Linked DNA regions of Homo sapiens: all the other regions are linked to region 1. The links come from fine-mapping of genetic effects on gene expression. A gene starts in region 1. Each other region holds a variant in brackets. All regions are shown on one strand. Distances are from middle to middle.

Region 1 (8,171 bases):
GGTGGAGGTTGCAGTGAGCCGAGAGCCTGACTCCGTCTCAAAAAAAACAAAAAACAAACAAAAAGAAAAACACCTCTCATTGTTTAGAGAAAGTTCACTAATGAAACTTAAGAACAGGCTCTTTAACAAGTTATCTCAATGTTTGTATAATCTTGTCATTAAAAAGAATTGGTAGCACCCAGGATGTTGCTTCGAGGGTCTCTGCAACAGTGTTGCGAAAGTCGTTTGCAAGAGAAACTGTAACTTGTATGTCTGGATGTACTTTGTATCTGTTGACTTTCTTCTTTTGTTACAGGGAATGAAGGAGACAACTTCTATGTCGTTGATCAAGGGGAAGTGGATGTGAGTGTCGCTAACTTGTCTTTGGAAAATAGCGCGTCTTTGCATGTCCGGTGTGAAGACTTGCCCTCCAGGCAGCACCAGGCCCCCAACAAACACTGCGCTGAGTGCCGTATTCCTAGTGTTTTAATCCAGAAATGCAACTGCTATCTCTTGGAAGAGAATATGGGAATATGAGAAAGTGCAGAGGGAAACAAGGGTGATGCTGGCAGGTGCCGGCAGCGGCCTCAGGTTTTCCAGGGCCGCTGTCTTCCGCTTGCCCCCGGGCTGCGACTGCTGGGGCTGGCCAGGGCGGTTCTGTTTGACCCAGCGCCGTCTCCAGATCCGAGGCCGATGAATACACCAGGCTCACCCACCACATGGGATGTTAACATCTCAAAGTGGGTGGGAGAGCGACGTGCTTAGAGACCCCCTAGGACCGACGACTTCACGATCAAACAACGGCTGCCTTTTGCGCCTGCGTTTGGCTCCCAGCTTGGAACGTCCCAGCCGTGAGTCGGGTCTCACTGTGTCATCTTCCCACGCTTGTCTCAAGAGCATCTTTTATGAGATGCTCCCACTGTTTTGGAAGGAGAAGCTTCCCCTCCGCTGGAGACCCCGTCTCGTGCCCGATGGCCAGGCCATGTGTATGTGTATGTATAAAATAGATACATATATGTATAAAACTAAGTAAATAAACACATACACACGGCACATGACATCACCCCTGGCCCCGCAGCCCAGTCTTGCCCAGAGCCTCTGGCTCCCATCTCTTCTGCCGTCCGGTTTAGAGCCTGGGTGCTCTGGTGTGAAGGCTTTGAGGCCCCCTCATCCCCCGCTGGGCTCCTGTTCTGCAGGCCGCCCCCCGCACGGCAGCCTGACCTTGCTGGTGCGGAGCTGATGGTGCAGCCTCTGGGAAAACGCCCGCTAGGAGTTTGTTTCCCTTTGAATCAGGCCCGAGCCCCTGCGGAGTCAGCGGGAAGGACCTCAGTGACATCATCCTCCCTCGGTTCCTGGAATCCGCCTGCACTGGCGGCCCCAGGGCCTTGGTGTGTGTCCCCTGCTCTGCCGGGAACCCCGTTAGCTCCTGCTTCTCCTTCTGCTCTCTGCTAAATGTCACTTCCCAGTGGGCATCAGCAGACATGTCCCACGCCTCCCTCGTAGGACCCTCTGCGGCTCGTGGTGATGACATCTCATGAGACCGTCTCTTTACGGCCTTTCTGCACACAGACTGGAAGCCCCCACAGTGCAGGACGCTTTGGGGATTCTGCTACCCGAGACGGTCACTGCTTCCCAGGCTGGCTGAGTCTTCTCTGGGTCTGGGATGCCTGCCTGCCCTTCTCCTTGTCCGCCTGCCCTTCTCCTTGTCCACCTGCCCCAGGAGGTGGCCTCCGCACTCTTCCGTGCAGGCAACGCCACCCCCGGCTGCCCAGCACGAGCTATTTCGAGGTCTGGCCTCCGGTGGCTGTGCCTCTGTCCCGGCCACGCTATTCTGGGGAGGGCATTTACTCATTTGTTTCCGTGGCAGCCGCGGAGTCTGTCCCCCATCGCGCTGTGTTTCTGGGAACCTGAGCAGGCCCACTCTGCTTCCGGAGCTGATAGCACAGGAAATGACTCAGGGGTCCCGCCTCCCCGTGGGGGGCACGTGCCTCGGGCCTGGCCCGCGCAGGCGGAGAAAGAGCCAGTTTCTCTTCTCCCTGGTGTGCTCTGTCCTGAGCCGGAACCCACGGGCTGGGCCCCTAGACAGGGCCTCTGGGGCAGACCTTTGTGTCAGGGAGTGGGGGTGCTCCTGTCTCCCCTAGAGATGGAAACTGAGGCAGGTGCCAAAGGTCCCGGGTACTGCCCGGCCTCAGAGGAAGTGTGGAGGGGGAAGGCTGGAGGGCGGCACTGGCGGGTCAACCCTGGGCTCAGCTGCCAGGCCGCAGAGTCATCTCCTGCTGGCTTTGCTTCGAGTTTAAAAAAAGCCTAGCCCAGGAAATAGAGAAGACAGAGGAGGATGCGGCCAGCATCCCAGCCGGGCATCGTCTTGGGGCCTGGGCCCGTCCCAGGAGGTGGCCCCGTTGTGCCTGGTATCCAGACACCAGGGCCTGATGGGGGGCTGCAGGGAATGGGGCTCAGCCCCCAGCAGATGGGGCAGGGCTGATCCCAGAGAGACCCTGGCAGCCCAGGCCTGCCCAGTGGTCAGCAGTGCTGAAGGCAGAGCCACCTCTGCGGGAGGTATGGGATGGGCAGCTTCCTGACTGGACCCACCGCTTTATCCCAGCCCCAAATCTCATGCTACTACTTATAGCCCCTCTTCTAGTTCACACTCTGGGTCCTGGTGTCACCGTGTCACCTCCTCCCCCGCCCTGTCCATTCTGGGTCCTGGTGTCACCATGTCACCTCCTCCCCCGCCCTCTCCACTCTGGGTCCTGGTGTCACCTCCTCCCCCATCCCCTCCACTCTGGGTCCTGGTGTCACCTCCTCCCCCACCCTCTCCACTCTGGATCCTGGTGTCACCTCCTCCCCCATCCCCTCCACTCTGGGTCCTGGTGTCACCGTGTCACCTCCTCCCCTGCCCTCTCCACTCTGGGTCCTGGTGTCACCTCCTCCCCCATCACCTCCACTCTGGGTCCTGGAGTCATCATGTCGCCTCCTCCCCTGCCGTCTCCTTCCTGGATGTTTATTGAGTGCCTGCTTTATGCCTGGCACTTGTGACGAGGAGGACCTGGTGCCTGCTCTGGTGTGGGGGAGGTTGTGGCTTAATGGGGGAGAGGGACCAAGAACAGGAAATTAGCCAATGAATGTCCTGACTCTGGTTCTGCCCCTCCTGTCCCCTCTGCTTTCATTCCTGCTCTGCCTCACAAACTCCTACACATCCTACAAGACCCCGCCAGGCCCAGCTCATCTATCTGCGGCTGGGCTTTGATAGATACTGACCTCCGCAGATGACCGAGGACCTGCCTCCCTGCGGTGGGCCTGGGAGCTCCATAGGTCCCCACTGAGGCCTTTCCTCCCCTGTGGAATGCTTCTCCCTCTTCTGTGTCTGCCCATGTCATTCAAATCTTCCAGTTAAATTCCAAAGGCATCTTCAAGGTGCCGGTTTGCATCGGCAGGGCTTGGGGTTGAGGCCACCCCCAGGAATTCTGCTTTCCATGTTCTTTGCTTCTCCTAAATGAACAGATGTGGAAGAGACAAACCCTTTACCCAGAGATCCCTTGTGGAGCCTGAAACCGACATGGGGCTCCCAGGTTATGTTCCCGCCTAACTTGTCGTGTCTCGAGGAGGGTGGTGGACGGGTCAGGATCGCGTGGACTCGGGACTCAGAGGACCCAGGCTGTGTTCTTTGCTGGCCGTGACCTTTGCCCAGGCCCTTGTGTGGCTGAGCCGTGCCATTTCCATATTACTCAGAAAAACGAACAGAGCTCACTGCTGCCGGGAAGACTGAGATAACCCTCCTGGGGTTCTGCTCTTGGCCCCTGGTGTGGAAGCCATTGGCCGCCTGGCAGCTGCCCCGCCCCGTCTCATGTCCCCAACACACGCACCGCAAGAGCCTCGTCCACCCCACAGAGGAAACGCCCACCACCCACGCCCCGGGCTTGTCCTCATCTTCAGCGCGGGTGGCCACCCTCCTGCCCCAGCGCCAGGCCCCAGCCGGCAGCATGCTGAGGACTTCCTGGGAGAGGTGAGGGTGTGAGGGGCCGGCGGCTGGGACTGCTGGAGGGATCAGGTCCCTGTCTTTCCGCCGTTGGCCTCCAGGCTCCCGGGAGCCCCACCTGGGCCAGGACCTCGGCAAAGGGGCCGGGAGGTGTTGCTGCCCCGGCTGACCTTGGCGGGACCTCCTCCTCCTCCTCCTCATCCTCGCAGAATCCCCACCCACCCCTCGACCTCTGGACTCAGTGAGGCATCTCCCTTCCCTCCGTCCTTCCAGCAGGACAGACCCCCCCTCCCCCCGCCGCCGTCTGTAACTCCTTCATACATGACAGGGTGGTGGGAGAGGCCGGTGCCGGAGCCACTTCAAAGCAGGGACCGTTTCCTCCAGCCCTGAGCTCACTGGGTCCCCTCCCAGCCCAGCCCCTGCCCTGGCCCAGTTAGCGTGGGGTCGGGGCTGAAGCCTGAGTGGAGGGGAGACGGTTTTCTCTCAGACACGACGCGTCGTGGCGTCCTGCCTGGCTTCTCGCCAGGCCCGGGGACGTTGGGAGGCAATTTTGAGAAAGGAAAGAGTGAGGTCACCCTCGTGTAACTGGAGTTCCCCAAATATATTGTCCTGGCAAATCCCTCCCCTTCCCCCTCCCCATCCCCCTGCCCGTCCCTGCGCCTCCCCCTGCCCGTCCCTACCCCTCCCCAGCCCCCCCGGGTCAGGCACAAAGGCAGCTTTAAGGCCTCTGCTGGACCCGGCCCTCCAGAGCCAGGATGTCTGAGCCCCGTGGGTGGATGCCCACTTCCTGGCTACAGGCTCACGTGGGATGGCCGGGCCCCCTGCGGGAACCGGCTGTGACTTATGGGGCTGTCCCGTGAGTCCCAGGCGGCTGTGCACGAACACCAAGCACCTCCATCAACTTCAGATTTTCCAGCCAGGGCAGGGGTGGGCGTCAGGGAGTGCCCGGCGGGGCCGGGCGGGGCCGGGCGCAGGAGCTGCCTGCAGGGGCCCTCCTGTGATGTGGGAGGCCCTTCGCATGCAGGGTAAATCCGCAGGGCCCGTGTGGGTGAAGGCCACATTTAAGGGAATCAAAGGATGCTCAGTAAGGAATCTGGAATGAAAAAGTGGCATGTTGGGTAGCCCGGGTGAGTTATGGGCATATGTATTATAATAATTACTGTTATTACAGCACCCGGGGGAACGGCCGCATGGCAGCCCCAGGCAGCCCCATCCAGCTGCTGTGTGAACCCTGGGTGCTGCATGTTGTTTGCTGGTTTCTGTAAATCGCCTCCCTGGGGCAATGGGATGGATGTACCCTGGGTTCGGGGCTGCAGGACTACGGCTACCCAGGGTCCGAGTGGGTTTCTGAGGCTAGCGGTTTTCCCTGGTTTTATTCTGCGTGGCGGGAAGGGACGGCCGTTTGCCGTGGGTATTTAACTGCGCTGGCCAAGTGCCGGAGGCCCATCAGGAAGCCGTCCCCTCAAGGACCTGGCCCTGGCCCTTTAAGCCAGCAGAGCTTGGAGGTGGACGTCACCCACTTCTGCAGGGTGGACGCTGCCCTCTGACCAGCAGCGTCCAGGGGGACGGCCAGGTGACAAAATGCCAAGAGCACCAGGTTCAGTTTGAATTACGGTTTTCCAGAGACTCCGAAAGTGCCTGCTGCCGTCCGTGTGTTGCCAAGAGCTATAATCCATTTTTCTAAGTATAAAAATATCTTCCAATGTATTTTATTCATGGAACATAGCATTTCTATTTAAAAGGACACTCAGCTGCTGACTTTGCAGGCCTGGGAACGTAGCTCCCTTCCAAGCCCTGTTTGGGGCTCGACTCTTCCCCTGATTGTTTTTGGGCCCGTTATCCCGACTCCCTCTTTTTGCTCCCCGTCCCAGGCATCACGACGTCCCCACTGACGCTGGCCGTTCCGGGCTTCCCTCGGTTTCACACAACACGTCTGGGGGAAGAGCTCTTTCTGGGGGGCTGGGGAGCACCGCCAGGCAGCTGGGTGTACCCCGGAGCAGGGCGCCTCAGCTTGGTGATCTGATCAGATGTTATTCAGGTTGTGTCTTGTGTTCTGTGTGTTTTTAAAATTCGTTTTTTAATTTTTTGAGATGGGGTCTCGCTCTGTCGCCCAGGCTGGGAGTGCGGTGGCGTGATCATAGCTCATTGCAGCCTTGAACTCCTGGGCTCAAGCGATCCTCCCGAGAAGCTGGGACTACCACTGTGCACCACCACGTCCAGCTAATTTTAAAGTTTTTCATAGAGACGGGGTCTTGCTGTGTTGCCCAGGCTGGTCTCAGACTCCTGGCTTCAAGCAATCCTCCCGCCTGGGCTTCCCAAAGTGCTGTGATGACAGGTATGAGCCACTGCCCTCGGCCCTACTTTAATTGTAGTAAAAGACACACCACACTGACCATTCTAACCATTTTGTGCAGTTCGGTGGCATTAAGAATATTCACGTTGTTTTACAACCGTCACCACTGTCCATTTCCCAAATGTTCTTGTCTTCTTAAACTGAAGCTCTGTCCACATTACACACTCCCTGCCCATGCGCCTCCCCCAGCTCCTGGCACCCCTGTCCCACCATTGACTTCTAAACACAGAGGGTGAGCGAGTGAAGGTGAATGGGGGGCCTGCCCGTGCGCCTCCCCCAGCTCTTGGCACCCCTGTCCCACCATTGACTTCTAAACACAGAGGGTGAGCGAGTGAAGGTGAATGGGGGGCCTGCCCGTGTGCCTCCCCCAGCTCCTGGCACCCCTGTCCCACCATTGACTTCTAAACACAGAGGGTGAGCGAGTGAAGGTGAATGGGGGGCCTGCCCATGTGCCTCCCCCAGCTCCTGGCACCTCTGTCCCACCATTGACTTCTAAACACAGAGGGTGAGCGAGTGAAGGTGGGCAGGGGGCAGGGCAGAGCCAGGTGTGAGCTCGGCGCCAGAGAAGCTGCAGTGATGGTGGGGTGTAAATGCTGCCCCGCGGGGGACCCCCATTGTTTTTTCTTTTAAAAGAAGAGAAGCTGGGCGTGGTGGCTCACGCCTGTAATCCCAGCACTTTGGGAGGCCGAGGTGGGTGGATCACCTGAGGTCAGGAGTTTGAGACCAGCCTGACCAACATGGAGAAACCCCGTCTCTACTAAAAATACAAAATTAGCCGGGCGTGGTGGCAGTTGCCTGTAATCCGGGAGGCTGAGGCGGGAGAATCGCTTGAACCTGGGAGGCAGAGGTTGCGGTGAGCCGAGATCGCACCATTGCACTCCAGCCTGAGGAACAAGAGCGAAACTCCATCTCAAAAAAAAAAAAGAGAGAAAACAAAAAAATGAAACACAACAAGAAGTAGCCCCTTTGCGTACCAGCTGGGGTGGGGCCCGCACTGCGCCGGGAGTGGTGACAGTGGCCAGTGTCCTGAGAAGGATGGCCCCTTTGTCCTCCGGGCGGCCGAGCACAGTGTGGCCCTGGCCGTCTGTGGGACCCGCACAATGGCTTCCTCTGAGGCTGCGGAGGGAGCTCTCGGAGGCCTTGGGCTTCTCCAGGCCTCATGGGCAGCGCGTCCTGGTCCAGCTTCCCTGGGTCCTGCCTGCAGCGGCAGCAGCCACGGATCCCCGCTTTGAGACAGAATCCCAGAAAGCTGGGAGGTGCGGCCGTCCCGGGCTGGCTCTGTGGAGACTCACCCTTCTCTGCTCCCAGAGCCCCCATCCTCTTTGCCAAGGCAGGGGGATGTCCTGCCACTTGCCTGGGCAGCCATTCGAGGGGGTGGTGTCCTCATTCCCTGAAGGGGCCAAGAGGCTCACTCACCTCCTTGGGCACAAGATGTTACCCGCCTCCCTGGCTCTCCCATGTCAAGCAAACCCCTCCCGACCTCAGATTCACATCTTCTGAGTCCACACTGCTTTCGTGGCTCAGCAAGAGGCCCCTGCATCGGAACAGAAGTGCAGAGGGTGCTGGAGGGAGGGTGATAGTGTTTAGTGCGGAGGGTGCTGGAGGGAGGGTGATGATGTTTAGTGTGGAGGGTGATGGTGTTTGGTGCGGAGGGTGCTGGAGGGTGATGGTATCTAGTGTGGAGGGTGCTGGAGGGTGATGGTGTTTAGTGTGGAGGGTGCTGGAGGGTGATGGTGTTTAGTGTGGAGGGTGCTGGAGGGAGGGTGATGGTATTTAGTGTGGAGGGTGCTGGAGGGTGATGGTGTTTAGTGTGGAGGGTGCTGGAGGGAGGGTGATGGTGTTTAGTGTGGAGGGTGCTGGAGG
Region 2 (8,171 bases), 48 kb before region 1:
ATGGTGAGGAGGATGGTGAGGATCGTGATGAAGATGGTGATGGTGATGAAGATGGTGATTGTGAAGTGATAAGGATGGTGATGATGATGGTGACGGTGGTGAAGATAGAGATGGTGATGAAGACGGCAATGATGATGATCATGAAGGGATGATGATGGTGATGATGGTGATGGAGATGAAGATAGTGGTGGTGATGGTGAAGGTGATGGTGATGATGGTAGTGATGGTGATGAAGGTGATGATGGTGATGTTGGTGATGATGGTGATAGTGATGATGATAATTATCATGGTAATAAGGGTGATGAGCACTAGTTATAACACCACATTAAGTGTATATAACCCATTTGGCCTCTTGTTGTGCTTTCCTAGAAATCATCTGCAATGGATGTTGGAGTTGATTCTCCATTATTCCCACCCCTCCCCAGCTATGTAGCACCATGTGGTTTGGGAGGGGATTGAATCTACCATGAGCTTTTGGAGTAGCCCTTATTTTAGCCCATTCTGGATGAGTCCATCCATCAACGACTGTGACTGGATCAGGTAACCCAAGACTAAGCCAACCAGCTCAGGACAGTTCCTGAGGCCCCTGTCCAGTGGCCAGGTGGCCTTGCTTAGCAGTGGTCCCATGAGAAGCAAAGAGAGTTTACTAAAGGCTTCTGGGAAAGGGACCTTGCTCCCTGGGGATAACTACACTTCTGGAAGCCAGCCCTCACTTTCCTTCTGAACGATGAGGTGGGTGAATGGGAAGCTTGGGAGGCAGTGTTGGGAAGAGGCTGCTGCTGCAAAGTACAGAAATGGACAGAACCTGGGTCTTTGAAGGCCTCGTTGAATTCCTGAATTCAACCCACCCCAAGGTTCCCTATGGTGTACTTGACATTGGTGGCCCCCAAAGAGCCTCAGACACTGGCCTGGCTCCCCACTTGTGTAGTTCCTTCTGCGTTGGCTCTGGGCCTGGCTGTGTGGCTGGGTTTGGCCAATGGTACATTAGCAAGTGTGATGCCAGGAGAGGCTGGAGAAGCACTTGTCCACTGGGAGCGGGTCCTTCTTGGCGCCCAGCCACCATGCAGTGGGGAAGCCCAAGCAGTCATGTGGAGGGACTCCTGGGGGTGGAGCTGGGACTCCTGGCCAGTGGCATCCCTGAGTGCCAGGCCGGTGGCCACCACCAACCACCCTGTGTGGAAATCAGCCATCCCAGCCAACACCATGGGAGGGAGGAGGCCTGCCCCATCAACCCACAGAACCATGAGGAAGAGTGAATTTTTTTGTCAAGGCACTCTGTTTGAGGTGGTTTGTTATGTAACAATAAATAACCAAAATACCCGAGTACCAGTTATTGGAGCCAAGAAATCCTTATTGAATGGGTTGGGAATTGTCTCTGGCTCCAAATCTCTATCCCTTCCAGCGACCCTGGACAGCAAGCTGGGAAAACGAGACACTCCCACATCACAAATGGTGAGCCTGGACTGCCAGTCCCTAGGGCAGAACCTCCAGATTTACAAAATAGTCTCCTGTGTGAGCGTGAACTGTCTTCCAAGAGGGGTTTCCCCAGGTTCCTAGCACTGCGTGGGTATGAACTTTCTTCCGAGAGGGGTTTCCCCAGGTTCCTAGCACTGTGTGGGTGTGAACTGTCTTCCGAGAGGGGTTTCCCCAGGTTCCTAGCGCTGCGTGGGTGTGAACTGTCTTCCGAGAGGGGTTTCCCCAGGTTCCTAGTGCTGCACGGGTGTGAACTGTCTTCCGAGAGGGGTTTCCCCAGGTTCCTAGCTCTGTGTGGGTGTGAACTGTGTTCCGAGAGGGGTTTCCCCAGGTTCCTAGCGCTGCGTGGGTGTGAACTGTCTTCCGAGAGGGGTTTTCCCAGGTTCCTAGCGCTGTGTGGGTGTGAACTGTGTTCCGAGAGGGGTTTCCCCAGGTTCCTAGCGCTGTGCGGGTGTGAACTGTGTTCCGAGAGGGGTTTTCCCAGGTTCCTAGCACTGTGTGGGTGTGAACTGTCTTCCGAGAGGGGTTTCCCCAGGTTCCTAGCGCTGTGTGGGTGTGAACTGTGTTCCGAGAGGGGTTTCCCCAGGTTCCTAGCGTTGTGTGGGTGTGAACTGTGTTCCGAGAGGGGTTTCCCCAGGTTCCTAGCTCCGTGTGGGTGTGAACTGTCTTCCGAGAGGGGTTTCCCCAGGTTCCTAGCGCTGTGTGGGTGTGAACTGTGTTCCGAGAGGGGTTTCCCCAGGTTCCTAGCGTTGTGTGGGTGTGAACTGTCTTCCGAGAGGGGTTTCCCCAGGTTCCTAGCTCCGTGTGGGTGTGAACTGTCTTCCGAGAGGGGTTTCCCCAGGTTCCTAGCGCTGTGTGGGTGTGAACTGTGTTCCGAGAGGGGTTTCCCCAGGTTCCTAGCTCCGTGTGGGTGTGAACTGTCTTCCGAGAGGGGTTTCCCCAGGTTCCTAGCGCTGTGTGGGTGTGAACTGTGTTCCGAGAGGGGTTTCCCCAGGTTCCTAGCGCTGTGTGGGTGTGAACTGTCTTCTGACAGGGGGTTTCCCAGGTTCCTAGCACTGTGTGGGTGTGAACTGTCTTCTGACAGGGGGTTTCCCAGGTTCCTAGCGCTGCACGGGTGTGAACTGTCTTCTGACAGGGGGTTTCCCAGGTTCCTAGTGGGAGTGTTTTGTTGACACGTGAAGTCTGTGTGATAAATAACACAGGGCCCTGGGAGTCAGAGATTGCTAAAGCCTCGTGGAAGAGCTCTGTAAGGCATCATGTGTTTCGGGGTCCTTTCCGAGGAACATGGAACTCGTATGAATTTTCAGGCTGGCTTTGTCAGTCAACATGGATCATGCTTCCTCCATGGCACACGTCCCTATAGGCATGCTACATGCACAGCCTGGTTTGCCCCTTGCAATCACCCCTCATGGCAGGTCCCTGCGGACTTGAGGGCCAGAGGCCCCTAGGAGCCTGGCTGTATGCTGGGTCCTGTCTGGGTGCCTGTAGGAGGCAGAGACAGGGCAGAGTAGATTTGGCACCTGCTCTTGAGCAGCCCCCAAATTCCAGACCTGAAGGAGTTTCAGCACCAAAGCAGGAACCCGGGGAAGCTTCCAGAAGGCAGCAGGGCTTGAATGGCTTGGACTAGCCTCTGTGCCTCTGAGCTTCCTGGTCCAGAGAGGTGATGATGCTTAGGACTGTTTTGCTGCACAGAAGAAGCTGAGTCAGGGCTCTCGGTGGCCGGTGAGCCAGGGGTGCTCCAGGATGAGTCCCGCAGGCATCCGCCAGCACGGGCAGGGAGGGAGGCAGCAGCTTTGCCTCAGACGCCTCTGGGCTCGGTCCCAGCCTGCTGCCTGCTGGCCACGTGACCTTGGCAAATGACGTGACGTCTCTGAGCTGCCTGTGGGCCACGTGACCTTTGCAAATGACATGACCTCTCTGAGCTTCAGGCCTGTTCCCTCTGTCCTTGAAGTTGGCGCAGTCAAAGGCAGAAAAGGGGCTGTCCCCAGGCAGAGCCCCCACCCACCGCCATTGCGCCTCCATTCCACAGGTGCCCCACGCTGTTCGGGTGGCAATGGCGGGACGTGTGCAGGGGCGGGAGGCTGTGCCAGAAGTGCACCAGGCAGGCAGTGGGTGAGGGCACCAGAGCCAGGAATGACTCCCAGAGGAGGGGGTGTTTGCAGCCCAGAGCTGGAGGTTCGGAGGTGCAGCCGGTGTGAAGGCTGGAGGGCTGGAAAGAGCCTTTCGTGGTTGGAACTGATCAGGTGGAGTGAGCAGGGAGGGAGGGAGGGGCTGAGTTGGGGTGGCAGTGGCTCTGGGGGCTGTGGTTTTCCAGCAGGGCACACAGACCCTTGGGATGCAGACCCTCTAGGGTCCCTCAGACAGGGTCCACAGTCCCAGGTCTGCATTCTCAGAACTGCCATTGAGGCCACCTGTCCTCTTCATCAGAGAAGGCACACTCACTCACACACCTGGGTCCTGCCTGCACAGATTGCAGTCACCTCACAACGGCATGGCCAGATGCTTCTTATAAACAAGGCACTACAGGCTGGGCATGATGGCTGATGCCTGTAATCCCAGAGCTCTAGGAGGCTGAGGCAGGAGGATCACTTGAGCATAGGAGTTTGAGACCAGCCTGGGCCGCATAGCAAGACCCTAATCTCTACAAAAAAAAAAAAAAAAAATTAGCTGGGCCTGGTGGCTCATGCAGCTACTCAGGAGGCTGAGGCAGGAGGATCACGTGAACATAGCCTGGGCAGCATAGCAAGACCTCAAGCTCTACAAAAAAACAGAAAATTAGCCAGGTGTGGTGGTGCTTGCCTGTGGTCCCAGCTACTCAGGAAGCTGAGATGGGGGGATCGCTTCAGTCCAGGACTTTGAGAGCAGCCTGGGCAACATAGCAAGACACTAATCTCTGCAAAGAACAAAAAATTAGCCAGGCCTGGTGGCTCATGCAGCTATTCAGGAGGCTGAGATGGGAGGATCGCTTGGGTCTGGGAGTTGGAGGCTGCAGTGACCCAGGGTCGTCACTGCAATCCAGCCTGGACAACAGAGCAAGACCCTGTCTCAAAAAATAAAAATAAATAAATAAATAAATAAATAAGGCGCTACATATAAATCAGTGTAAATATAAAACACACTAAATGAT[G/A]TATTTCGAAAATAGCTTTACTTCTTCAATTGAATAATTACTTACCAAAAATGTTAATGTATAAACGTTTAGTTAACTGTCTGCTAACACTAAAAAGAAATCCTGAAGAAAAATATGATGCTTATAACCTTGTGTTCACAGGGAAAATAATTCCAAACATTCAACGCGTCTTTTACAAGGAAGCATGATAGGGAGATCAAAAAATATTAAGATACGTTTTAAATTAAAACATTTTTACATTGGGATAAATTCTGTGGGAAATGGGCTAGAAATACTCATTCGAGGAGAAAAGGAGCAGTGGAAACATTCTAAATGTTAAAAGCTTTTAAATTTTTATTTATTTATTTATTTTGAGACGGAGTCTCACTCTGTCACCCAGGCTGGAGTGCAGTGGCACGATCTCAGCTCACTGCAACCTCCACCTCCCAGATTCAAATGATGCTCCTGCCTCAGCCTCCCGAGTAGCTGAGATTACAGGTACCCGCCACCATGCCAGGCTAATTTTTGTATTTTTAGCAGAGACCAGGTTTTACCAGGTTGGCTAGGCTGGCCTTGAACCCCTGACCTCAGGCGATCCACCTGCCTCGGCCTCCCAAAGTGCTGGGATTACAGGTGTGAGCCACCGTGCCTGGCCAAATGTTAAAAGTTCTTAAATTTTCTCCGTGATATCTTGTTTTGGTGAGTGTCCAATCCCTATGGGTTTATATTTCATTTATTTATTTATTTATTTTTTCAGATGGAGTCTTACTCTTGTCACCCAGGCTGGAGTGCAATGGTGCAGTCTTAGCTCACTGCAACCTCTGCCTTCTGGGTTCAAGTGACTCTTCTGCCTCAGCTTCCTGAGTAGCTGGGATTACAGGCACTGCCACCACGCCTGGCTAATTTTTTTGTTTGTTTGTTTTTTTGAGACGGAGTCTCACTCTGTTGTCCAGGCTGGAGTGCGGTGGCGTGATCTCGGCTCACTGCAACCTCCGCCTCCTGGGTTCAAGTGATTCTCCCGCCTCAGCCTCCTGACTAGCTGGGATTACGGGCACGCACCACCATGCCCAGCTAATTTTTGTATTTTTGTAGAGATGGAGTTTTGCCATGTTGGCCAGGCTGGTCTCAAACTCCTGACCTCAGGTGATCTGCCTGCCTCAGCCTCCCACAGTGCTGGGATGACAGACGTGAGCCACCATGCCCTGCCTATGGGTTTATATTTCATTGGCTATGTTTAAAAGAGAGAAGGGCAGTTAAAATACCAACTTTCACAATAGGCCAGAAATTACTCCTTTTTGCAACTACCTAAACTTGTAATGAAACATTATAGATGCTAACTTAAAAACAAGTGAAGAGGTACGTAGTTTAAGATTTTTTTTTTTTTAATTTTGGAGGTAGAGTCTCGATATGTGGCCCAGGCTGGAGTTCAGTGGTGTGATCATAGCTCACTGCAGCCTCAACCTCCCAGCCTCAAGCAATCCTCCCACCTCAGCCTCCCAAGTACCTGGGACCACAGGTGCGCACCACCACACCCGGCTAATTTTTAAATTTTTTGTAGAGCTGGGGTCTTGATGTGTTGCTCGAGCTGGTCGCAAACTTCTGGCCTCAAGCAGCGTCTCAAAGCACCGGATTACAGGTGTGAGCCACCATGCCCGGCCATAATGAAGCATTTTAGGTGCTAACTGAAAAACAACATGCGAGGAGGTTTTTTTTTTTTTTTTTTTTTTTTTTGGAGACGAAGTCTCGTTGTTGCCCAGGCTGGAGTGCAGTGGTGCGATCTCGGCTCACTGCAGGCTCTGCCCCCCCAGGTTCATGCCATTCTCCTGCCTCAGCCTCCTGAGTAGCTGGGACTACAGGCGCCTGCCACCTCGCCCGGCTAATTTTTTGTATTTTTAGTAGAGACGGGGTTTCACTGTGTTAGCCAGGATGGTCTCGATCTCCTGACCTTGTGATCCACTTGTCTCGGCCCCCCAAAGTGCTGGGATTACAGGCATGAGCCACCGCGCCTGGCCTGGAGGTACGTGTTTTAAGAAAACTCTTTGGATAGCAAATGGGTGGTTATTCATGGTTATGGGATTAAAGACCGGACGGAGTGGGAGCTGCTGGGGGGTGTTGGGATCATAGAGGGGGCATGGATGGGAGAGGACGAGGAGGCTACGGGGCAGCAGGAGAGGCCAGGAGAGTTGTCCCAGCCACAGGTGATGCTGGCTTGGGTGGGCTGGAGACGGGACAGTGGACAGACTGGGTGATGGCCCTTGGTTAGACCAACGGGTTTTGCTGAGGACCTGACATGGGAGGGTGAGAACGGGAGTGAGGAAGGCTGATCCGCAGGTTGGGGGTTGCTGGTGCCCCCAACCCCGGAGGAGGTGGGCAGGCAGGCTGGTTTTGGCCACAAGAGTTTGGGCGCCCTGTAGGACGTGGGAGAGAGGGGACAGGTGGTCGGCTGTGTGGCTCTGGCCGGCCATGTTGCGTCCCATGCCCCTTTCTTCCCCACCTCTGGGTGGCCCCTTTGGTGTTTCACTTTTGTGGAAGCTGAGCAGCCTGGGCCAGGAGTGGGGGGCAGTGTCACCCCTGCCAGGGCCCCCGGCTCCCTGCCAGGTGTACCGCTGCCGCCCTCAGCCCAGGGCCCTTCGCCTGTGATCCTGCCGGGTGTGAGCTCAGCTAATGGCCTTTTTGGATTTGGACCCTCTTCCTGTTATGATCGGGCGGATGGCCAATTTAAGCATTTAAATCTTGGTTTTAATTTAGTTTGGTTAACATGGCTTAGTCTTAATTACCTGTGCAGTAGCGGCCCCGTCGTAGGATGCTGAGCACTCTGAGCCATTTCATCATCGTGTGATTTCATGCATCTCATTGTGAGTTCAGGGGTTCAGAGGGAGAAGCGTGAAGCCATTTCTAAGTGATGTTTTTATGGGAAACAAGGTTTAATTGTGTGGAAATAGCCATGATTCTGCACGCAGCCCCATTAGGAAACGAGCTCCGCTCTTCTTTCAGTTACTCCAGAGCTGTCATTAGCTCGGGGCCAAGAAGAAGGAGGAACCATTTTCTGTGTCTTCCTGCCCCACCATCGAGCTGCTTGGCACTTGGAATTGCAGAAGCAGAAAAGTTCATGAATTTGGATTTCCCCAGGTTTAGAATTTATGCACCGTCCTTCTAGAATCACTGAAATTGTTCTCTTAAAACGTAGCACTCAGGCCAGGCGCGGTGGCTCACGCCTGTAATCCCAGCACTTTGGGAGACCAAGGCGGGAGGATCGCTTGAATCCAGGAGTTTGAGACCAGCCTGGGGAACATAGGAAGACCCTGTCTCTACAGTAGATTCAAAAATCAGCTGAGCATGGTGGTGCACCTGTGGTCCCAGCTACTTGGGAGGCCGAGGTAGGAGGATTGCTTGAGCCCAGGAGGTTGAGGTTTCAGTGAGCTATGATTGCACCACTGCACTTCAACCTGGGAGGCAGAGCAAGACTCTGCCTCTTAAAAAAAAAAATAGCGTGCAGTTGGGGTTACTGAGCAACATGTTGGTGACGAAGGAGCCGGAATCTCAGCTGTGGGCCTCGTGGGGTCAGGTGCACACTTGGACTTTGCTGTCAGCT
Region 3 (8,171 bases), 31 kb before region 1:
GTAGCTGGGATTACAGGCACCTGCCACCACACCCGGCTAATTTTTTGTATTTTTAGTAGAGACGGAGTTTCACTATGTTGGCCAGGCTGGTCTCGATCTCCTGACCTCAGGTGATCCACCCACCTCGGCCTCCCAAAGTGCTGGGATCACAGGCGTGAGCCACCGCACCCGGCCCATTATTTGCTCTTGATTCTTTTAAAGGTGCACTGAAGATTTACAAATATCAGGAAATGAACATTTTATTTTTTCCTTAGGTTTAAAGACTGTATAAAGCATTTTAATAAACATGATTTGTTTGTTTGTTTTTTTGAGACAGAGTCTTACTCCTTCACCCAGGCTGGAGTGCAGTGGCGCAATCTCGGCTCATTGCAATCTCCACCTCCCTGGTTCAAGCGATTCTCCCGCCTCAGCCTCCCAAGTAGCTGGGATTACAGGTGCGCCACCATGCCCAGCTAATTTTTGTATTTTTAGTTAGAGACGGGATTTCACCATGTAGGCTAGACCTCTGCCTCCGAAGCTCAAGCGATCCTCCCACCTCAGCCTCCCGAGGAGCCGGGACTACAGGTGTGCACCACCACGCCCGGCTAATTTTTGTATGTTTTTGTAGAGATGGGGTTTCGCGGTGTGGCCCAGGCTGGTCTCAAAGTCCTGAGCTCAAACCGTCCACCCGCCTTAGCCTCCCAAAGTGCTGGGATTAGGTGTGAACCACCACACCTCACCTCCTTCAAGGTTTCTGACTGGTCCTGGAGCTTGGCCTGTCCCGGCACTCCCCACCCCCCACCTTCAGCACCTGGCCCCTTCCCTCACGGCCGTTCTTTCCCACTCGCCGTGGTTTGCGGGGTCACAGTTGTTGAGGAAGTTGCAGACACCTGGGAGCTGCTCTTGATAGCAGGGAGTTTGGCGTGTGATACCCATTCCTCACCCAGGAGGGAGGGGCGTGCAGGTGCAGAGACAGAGAGATGGACCCGACCCGTCAGGTCCCGCCGGCCCCCTCCCCAGCAGGCTTCTACAGCACAGCCTCTGTGAGGGTGGAAATGCTTCTGTCTGAGCTGCTGTCCTCACAGTGGCCACGGGCTGGGGAGGTGCTGGCCACCTGGGGTCACTGTGTTCCAGCAGTTGAGAGAGGCAGAGCATTGGCTGTCAGAAAGGACCATTCTGGGTGGGGCAGGAGGGGCCCCAGGACCAGCCCTCATTGGCAGGGCTGGCAGGAAACCCCCCACCCCTGGTGAAGGAGCCCCAGCATCCGGTGGGCACAGTGGGCACAGTCCGGTGGAGGACGTGAGGGCGCGGCCGGTGGAGGACGTGTGGGCGCGGCCGGTGGAGGACGTGAGGGCGCGGCCGGTGGAGGACGTGTGGGCGCGGCCGGTGGAGGACGTGTGGGCGCGGCCGGTGGAGGACGTGTGGGCGCGGCCGGTGGAGGACGTGAGGGCGCGGCCGGTGGAGGACGTGAGGGCGCGGCCGGTGGAGGACGTGAGGGCGCGGCCGGTGGAGGACGTGTGGGCGCGGCCGGTGGAGGACGTGAGGGCGCGGCCGGTGGAGGACGTGTGGGCGCGGCCGGTGGAGGACGTGAGGGCGCGGCCGGTGGAGGACGTGTGGGCGCGGCCGGTGGAGGACGTGAGGGCGCGGCCGGTGGAGGACGTGAGGGCGCGGCCGGTGGAGGACGTGTGGGCGCGGCCGGTGGAGGACGTGTGGGCGCGGCCGGTGGAGGACGTGAGGGCGCGGCCGGTGGAGGACGTGAGGGCGCGGCCGGTGGAGGACGTGAGGGCGCGGCCGGTGGAGGATGTGTGGGCGCGGTGCTGGTACTTTTACAATGCTTCGTGAACCTGCTGTCCGTAGCTCTGTTTCACAGATGGGGAAACTGAGGCCTGGCGATTAAGTGGCCTGCTGAAATCATCCAGCTAGTAAGTGTCGGAGCTGTGATTTGGACCAACTCCTGCCTCCAAAGCTCATTCACCTCCTTACCTTTGCACTGAGCTCCAGAAAACCTGAGGCTTCCCCGTCTCCCTCGCTGTGCCTTCTCTCCCCTGCTCAAAGACCGTCCTGCAGCCATCATGGAGGGAGAAGCCCTTTTTCCTAAGCTGTTCACAGGATAGTCTGGGAGGGCCTGGGAGGCAGCGGAGGAGTCCCGAGCCTTCCGGGCTCCAGGCCTGGGTTCCAGTGCCCTGGGGAGAGGCCTAGGGCTGCCAAGGGGCCCTCGGGTCCCAGCTGTGCGTCTGCCAGGAGAGGACTGTGGAGTCAGTGTTGGGGACGCTCCCTGAGCCCCAGGGGGGTGCAGGCAGGTTGCCGTCCACTCCGATCCTTCTGAGGCTCTGTGGCCCAGGCCTGCTGCTCTGACCCCTGTTTTCAGAGCAGCGATGCCACAGTCTGCCTGGGCGCGAACATGACATCTGGCCCAGATCCGGAACATTCAGGGCCAGTCTGGTCCTGAGATGTGGAAGCTGCCAGGGGAGGGCTGGGCCTTGGGGCCCACAGGGACCCCTGCTCAGCTGGTTTCCAGCCTGTGGAATGTGGGTCCCAGGGTGTCAGATCTTGATTTTTCCAGAGAAGCTGGAAGTCCGGTTTTTTGGTGAAATCTCCTAATTTTATTTATTGTTTTAAATTTTACCTTGAAAATAGTTCACACAGAAACGTTGCAAGGAGAGTATCATGAAGCCCTGTGTACCCTTTGCCACTCAGCATTTTGGGACGTATTTGTGCTGCATTTGCTTCATCAGTTCTGTGTTCTACATTCGCATACTGTTATTTTTACTCTTTTTATTATTTGGATCATTTGAGAGTAAGTTGCAGGCTGGGTGCGGTGGCTCACACCTGTGATCCCAGCACTTTGGGAGGCTGAGGTGGGCGGATCGCTTGAGGTCAGGAGTTCGAAACCAGCCTGGCCAACGTGGTGAAACCCCGACTCTACTAAAAACACAAAAATTAGCCAGACATGGTGGCGGGTGCCTGTAATCCCAGCTACTCGGGAGGCTGAGGCAGGGGAATCACTGGAACCCTGAAGGCAGGGGTTGCAGTGAGCCAAGATCGCTCCATTGCACTCTAGCCTGGGTGAAAGAGCGAGACTCCACCTTAAAAAAAAAAAAAACAGTAAGTTGCAGACACCAGGACCCCACGCCTTAAATGCTTCACTGG[G/T]TGTCTCCTAAGAACAAGCAGGAAAATCATCACAGGCACAGCGCTCACCCTGCACGCAGCACCCTGAGCTGAGCTGACCCCCACCCAAATTCAAACTCTGTCCCAGTTCTTTTTTTTTGGAGACAGGGTCTTGCTCTGTTGCCCAGGCTGGAGTGCAGTCATGAGATCACAGCTCACTGCATCCCCAACCTGCTGGGCTCAAGTGATCCTCCCGCCTTAGCCTCCCGAGTAGCTGAGCCACTGCACCTGGCTAAGTTGAAAAATGTTTTTTTTTGGGCCGGGTGCAGTGGCTCACGCCTGTAATCCCAGCACTTTGGGAGGCTGAGGCGGGCGGATCACAAGGTCAGGAGTTCGAGACCAGCCTGGCCAACACATTTGAAACCCCGTCTCTACTAAAAATACAAAAATTAGCCGGGCATGGTGGCAGGCGCCTGTAATCCTAGCTACTGGGGAGGCTGAGGCAGGAGAATGGCGTGAACCTGGGAGGCAGAGGTTGCAGTGAGCTGAGATCACACCATTGCACTGCAGCCTGGGAGGCAGAACTAGACTCCCTTTAAAAAAACAAAATTTATTTATTTTTTCTTGTACAGATGGGGTCTCATTATGTTGCCCAAACTCCTGGGCTCAAGCAGTTCCCCTGCCTCAGTCTCCCAAAGTGCTGCGATTACAGGTGTGAGCCACTGTGCCTGGTCCAAATCCCTGAGGAGCCCAGGCAGGTGGTTTACAAGGTCTTGGGTCTGCCTGTTTCCCGTGATTACACACAGCCTCCTTACTTTTGCTGGGAAGGCCGTGAACAGGAGCTGTGTCCTCGCTGCTCCCCTCCCCGACTTTTTCCAAGGTGGGCAGCTCCTTTAAATCACCTCAGGAACCTGGGAGGCCAGGCGGGCCCAACCTGCGTCCCAGCATTCAGCTGCCTTATTAAGCACAGAGTCTGAGCTCAATAAAATCAGGACCACAGGCATGCACCACCACACCCAGCTAATTTTGAAATTTTTTGTAGAGATGGGGTCTTGCTGTATTGCCCCGGCTGGTCTTGAACTCCTGGCCTGAAGTGATCCTCCCGCCTCGGCCTCCCAAAATGTTGGGACTACAGGTGTAAGCCACCATGCCCAGCCTGTATTACTTTTTAAATCTGAATTTGGTTTGTATAATTACATGAAATACTAATATGGCTCCCAAGTCGTGGGATATTACAGAAGTCTTGCCGCCTTCCTGGGTCCCGTCTCCTGTGCACAGAGCCCCTTCCTTTCACCTGTGGGTGACTATCTTAATATTTTCTGTGTCGATTTGCCTATGTGTGGTTTAAATAAGCAAATACGCACATGGAGTCACGGCCCCTCCTGCCTGTGTTAGATAGATGTTTGCACACGAGACACACTTTTCTCCACTTGGTGTTTTTCATTTGACATCATGTCCTGGAGATCACGTCTTTGCTGTTTATAGCGATATCTGGGGGAGGATTTTGACAGCGTGAAGGGTTTGTTTCTGAGCGTATTCCAGAGTCGGAGCAGTGGTGGGAGCAGAGAATGAATTCACACGCATGGCGTCGGCACGACATGACTCCATCTAGCTGATCTCACTACGACCCGCGCGCCTGGCTTCCCTCTGCCCGTGATTTAGAGGAGAAAGTGGAGGCTTGCCGGAGCCGGCCGGGACCTGGTGTCTGCTTCCCGGACAGGCACTGTGTGGCCCCAGGCTCAGGAGGGCTGACGGGTGCCGGCCGTCGGGGGCTCCTTGAGGCTGTGGCTGGGCACACAGCCCCGTAGAGTCCCAGACCTGTTGCGGGTGTGGCCCACGGAATCCTCCTGATGGCTCTGTAGCTTGTATCACGTGTGGCTGGCAGTGCCGGGGGCTCAGGAACATCCGGTAGAGAGTGCAGCCTCCGTGGCATTTCTGTGTGAGGATGAACCGGAGTGAGCTCAGCCTCGCCCTGTGCCCTGCAGAGCAGACACGCAGCAGCATCATGAGGGCCGCAGTGTCCTGAAGGCCTGGATCCATCTGTACCAAGGCAGCCCCACCCAGTGTGCTCGGAACAAGGGAATCCCCACAGAAGAGAATGGCTCCTGGGAGTACCAGTGCCATGACCCGGCAGCGGGGACACTGGTGGTCTTCAGACGCAGTGGCCGTCCTGAGCTGAGCCAGGGGCAGTGGGAAGACCCCCCCGGTGGAGCCTGCGGCTCGGGGGGCTGTGTTGGGGGGCAGTGGATGGGAGAGACAGCAGCAGGAGGATTCGTCTCGAGTCCGGGTCTCTGCGAAGCCGGTGCCGGCTTCGGCGAGGTGGGTGGTCTCCACGCCCCTTGAGGTTGAGAAGATGTGCGCCCTTCTGCAGGGGCCGAGCTGCTGGGCGTCTGGCAGAATTTCACAGTGTTTAAAAGGAATGATTTTTAATGAGGCAACAGAGACACAGGGTTCACACAGACAAGGCAGAGAGAGATAACAGACCTTGGCCAGCACCTGCTCCCCCCAGGCTCTGTTGCGTGTGCGCAGGAGGGTCACACGGAGACGCTGGCTCACACGTGAGCTCGGTCTTCCTGGGGGCTACACACAGCTGTGCCAGTTGCCTTTTTCTCTTTACGGTTTCTCTTGGAGATTTTTCTAGATCGGGACACAAGGTGCTCTCCTCCCGCTGCTTTTTTTTTTGAGACAGGGTCTTGCTGTGTCGCTCAGGCTGGAGGGCAGTGGTGCCATCACAGCTCTATGCAGCCTCAATCTCCTGGGCTCAAGCAATCCTCCCACCTCAGCCTCCCGAGTAGCTGGGACTACAGGTGCATGGCATCATGCCTGGCTAATTTCCAATTTTTTTTTTTTTAGAGATGGGGGTCTCTCTATGTTGGCCAGGCTGGTCTGGAACTCCTGGGCTCAAGCGAACCTCTCCTCGGACTCCCAAAGTGCGGGGATGACAGGCATGAGGCACCGCGTCTGGCATCCGCCTTCTTTTGGAGTCTCACAGGATCCCCAGTGTGCTCGGAGGACAGTGGGCTGGGTTTGCGTGGTGGGCCTGCACACCGTGCCCCGGCTTTTCCACGCAGCACCTTTGTGGGGCCGTGTTTTCTCCCCCTCGGGCTGTGTGTGCTGGGCTGTGAGACTGGCTTCTGTCTGGGTGCTGGCTGACCCTGGAACTGGCCTGGCCAAGGTGACCGGCTTCTGCCTGTTTTCCTTCCTGAGTCATCCCAGGTTAGGTGCTGAGTGGCTTTGGGCCGGCGACCACCCCTGTCTGGGCCTGAGGGTGCCGTATCTGTAAGGTCTATGGCATGACATGGCGAGAGGTGGGCCGCTGTCCACACCTGGCCACTGTCAACTTCCATCTTGCTGTTTGAACAACTGCTCTTGAAAACCAGTTTGAATCAAGCTGGCACGGCGGCTCACGCCTGTCATCCCAACACTTTGGGAGTTCAAGGTGGGCGGATCACTTGAGGTCAGGAGTTTGAGACCAGCTTGGCCAACATGGTGAAACCTTGTCTCTACTAAAAATACAAAAATTACCCGGGATTGGTGAGGGTGCCTGTAATCCCAGTTACTCGGGAGGCTGAGGCAGGAAAATCGCTTGAACCAGGAGGTGGAGGTTGCAGTGAGCCAAGATTGTGCCACTGCACTCCAGCCTGGGTGACAGAGCAAGACTCTGTCTTTAAAAAAAAAAAAAAAAAAATCCGAATCAGCTGCAAGCCCTCTGTTGAAACCAGGCGATGGTCAGGGAGCTTCTGAGTTTCCATCTTATCTGAAAGCTGGAAGGTCACACGTGTGGGCCCTGCTCCACCTGGGTGATGGTGCTCCCTGGAGATGGTGGGGGGGGTGTGCTCCCCATCCCTGCACCTGACTGGGCCTGGGGGTGGCTGAGTTTGCAATCCCTGTCTGTCTCCCTGGTCCTGAGGGAGCCTCCAGCTTTGGTGATGCAGTGCCTATGGCACATCCCCTGGGCGTCTTTAACATGAGCCTGGCAGTGAGGCCAGGAGGGAGGCATTTGATCCCCCCGGGGCCAGCCTCACCCGTATGGCCTTTGGAAAGCTATGTCTCTTCACTTAGAACAAAGGTTCAGACCAAATTAAAACAATAATAACAAAATCAAGTGCATCTGAGTTTGTACAGGGAGCCGTGGGACCCCCAGGGCAATGGGATAGGCCACCCCCTGGGTACCCACAGGCCTCAGATGCAGGCTGACCTTGCACCCCCAGCCAGGACCCCAACCGCTGCCCGCTGCCTGCCTGCCACCTGCCAGCACAGGCGCAGTTTGGGCCTGTTTTCCAGCTCCCGGCCGGCCAGTTTTGACAACAGGACCACCTGCCTGGGGGTTTGCCTCTCCGATGGGGCTGGCCGAGCCCTCAGGTACATCTCAGCTGCTCACCTGCTAGGAGCCACGGTCACCTTCGCCTGGCCTGGCCCAGCCCCCTCCACACCTTTCAAGTGCCCTGGTCCTGGAAGGGGGAGGTGGGGGTGTGCCTGGCTCTTCCACTGCGCTCCACTTCCAAGGCCCGGCCTGTGCTTTGAAGCAGCAGCCGTGGAAAGAAAACAAGTATTGCAGCCCACAGAGCCCTGGGAGGCCGTGGTCCCGCTCCTGCAGCGTTTTCCAGCCCTGGGGTGGTGGCGCCCTGGGAGGCCGTGGCCCCGCTCCTGCAGCGTTTTCCAGCCCTGGGGTGGTGGCGCCCTGGGAGGCCGTGGCCCCGCTCCTGCAGCGTTTTCCAGCCCTGGGGTGGTGGCGCCCTGGGAGGCCGTGGCCCTGCTCCTGCAGCGTTTTCCAGCCCTGGGGTGGTGGCGCCCTGGGAGGCCGTGGCCCCGCTCCTGCAGCGTTTTCCAGCCCTGGGGTGGTGACGCCCTCGGAGGCCGTGGCCCCGCTCCTGCAGCGTTTTCCAGCCCTGGGGTGGTGGCGCCCTCGGAGGCCGTGGCCCCGCTCCTGCAGCGTTTTCCAGCCTTGGGGTGGTGGCGCCCTCGGAGGCCGTGGCCCCGCTCCTGCAGCGTTTTCCAGCCTTGGGGTGGTGGTGCCTTCGGAGGCCGTGGCCCCGCTCCTGCAGCGTTTTCCAGCCCTGGGGTGGTGGCGCCCTGGGAGGCCG

Evidence for each region. PIP is the estimated chance that this variant, and not a neighbour inherited with it, causes the effect.
Region 2: its variant is fine-mapped to the expression of PRKAR1B-AS1 in whole blood (TOPMed, PIP above 0.99).
Region 3: its variant is fine-mapped to the expression of PRKAR1B-AS1 in whole blood (TOPMed, PIP 0.98).

The regions. Positions count from the first base shown.
Region 1 is chr7:598,364-606,534 of GRCh38, reverse strand. PRKAR1B-AS1 (PRKAR1B antisense RNA 1) reads right to left here and starts at 3,690. Exons shown (of 2, transcript NR_110054.1): 1 at 3,238-3,690. It overlaps PRKAR1B (protein kinase cAMP-dependent type I regulatory subunit beta), which reads left to right. Exons shown (of 11, transcript NM_001164760.2): 6 at 296-342. RefSeq lists enhancers at 1,528-1,887, 2,158-2,267, 2,202-2,887, 2,948-2,997 and silencers at 4,093-4,152, 4,893-5,002.
Region 2 is chr7:645,945-654,115 of GRCh38, reverse strand. The region is part of intron 4 of PRKAR1B (protein kinase cAMP-dependent type I regulatory subunit beta); the gene reads left to right. Among named protein-coding and RNA genes, the nearest start is that of PRKAR1B-AS1, 47 kb to the right of the region's middle. RefSeq lists an enhancer at 1,578-2,777. The variant G/A (reference allele first, on the strand shown) is at 4,601.
Region 3 is chr7:629,555-637,725 of GRCh38, reverse strand. The region is part of intron 4 of PRKAR1B (protein kinase cAMP-dependent type I regulatory subunit beta); the gene reads left to right. Among named protein-coding and RNA genes, the nearest start is that of PRKAR1B-AS1, 31 kb to the right of the region's middle. The variant G/T (reference allele first, on the strand shown) is at 3,130.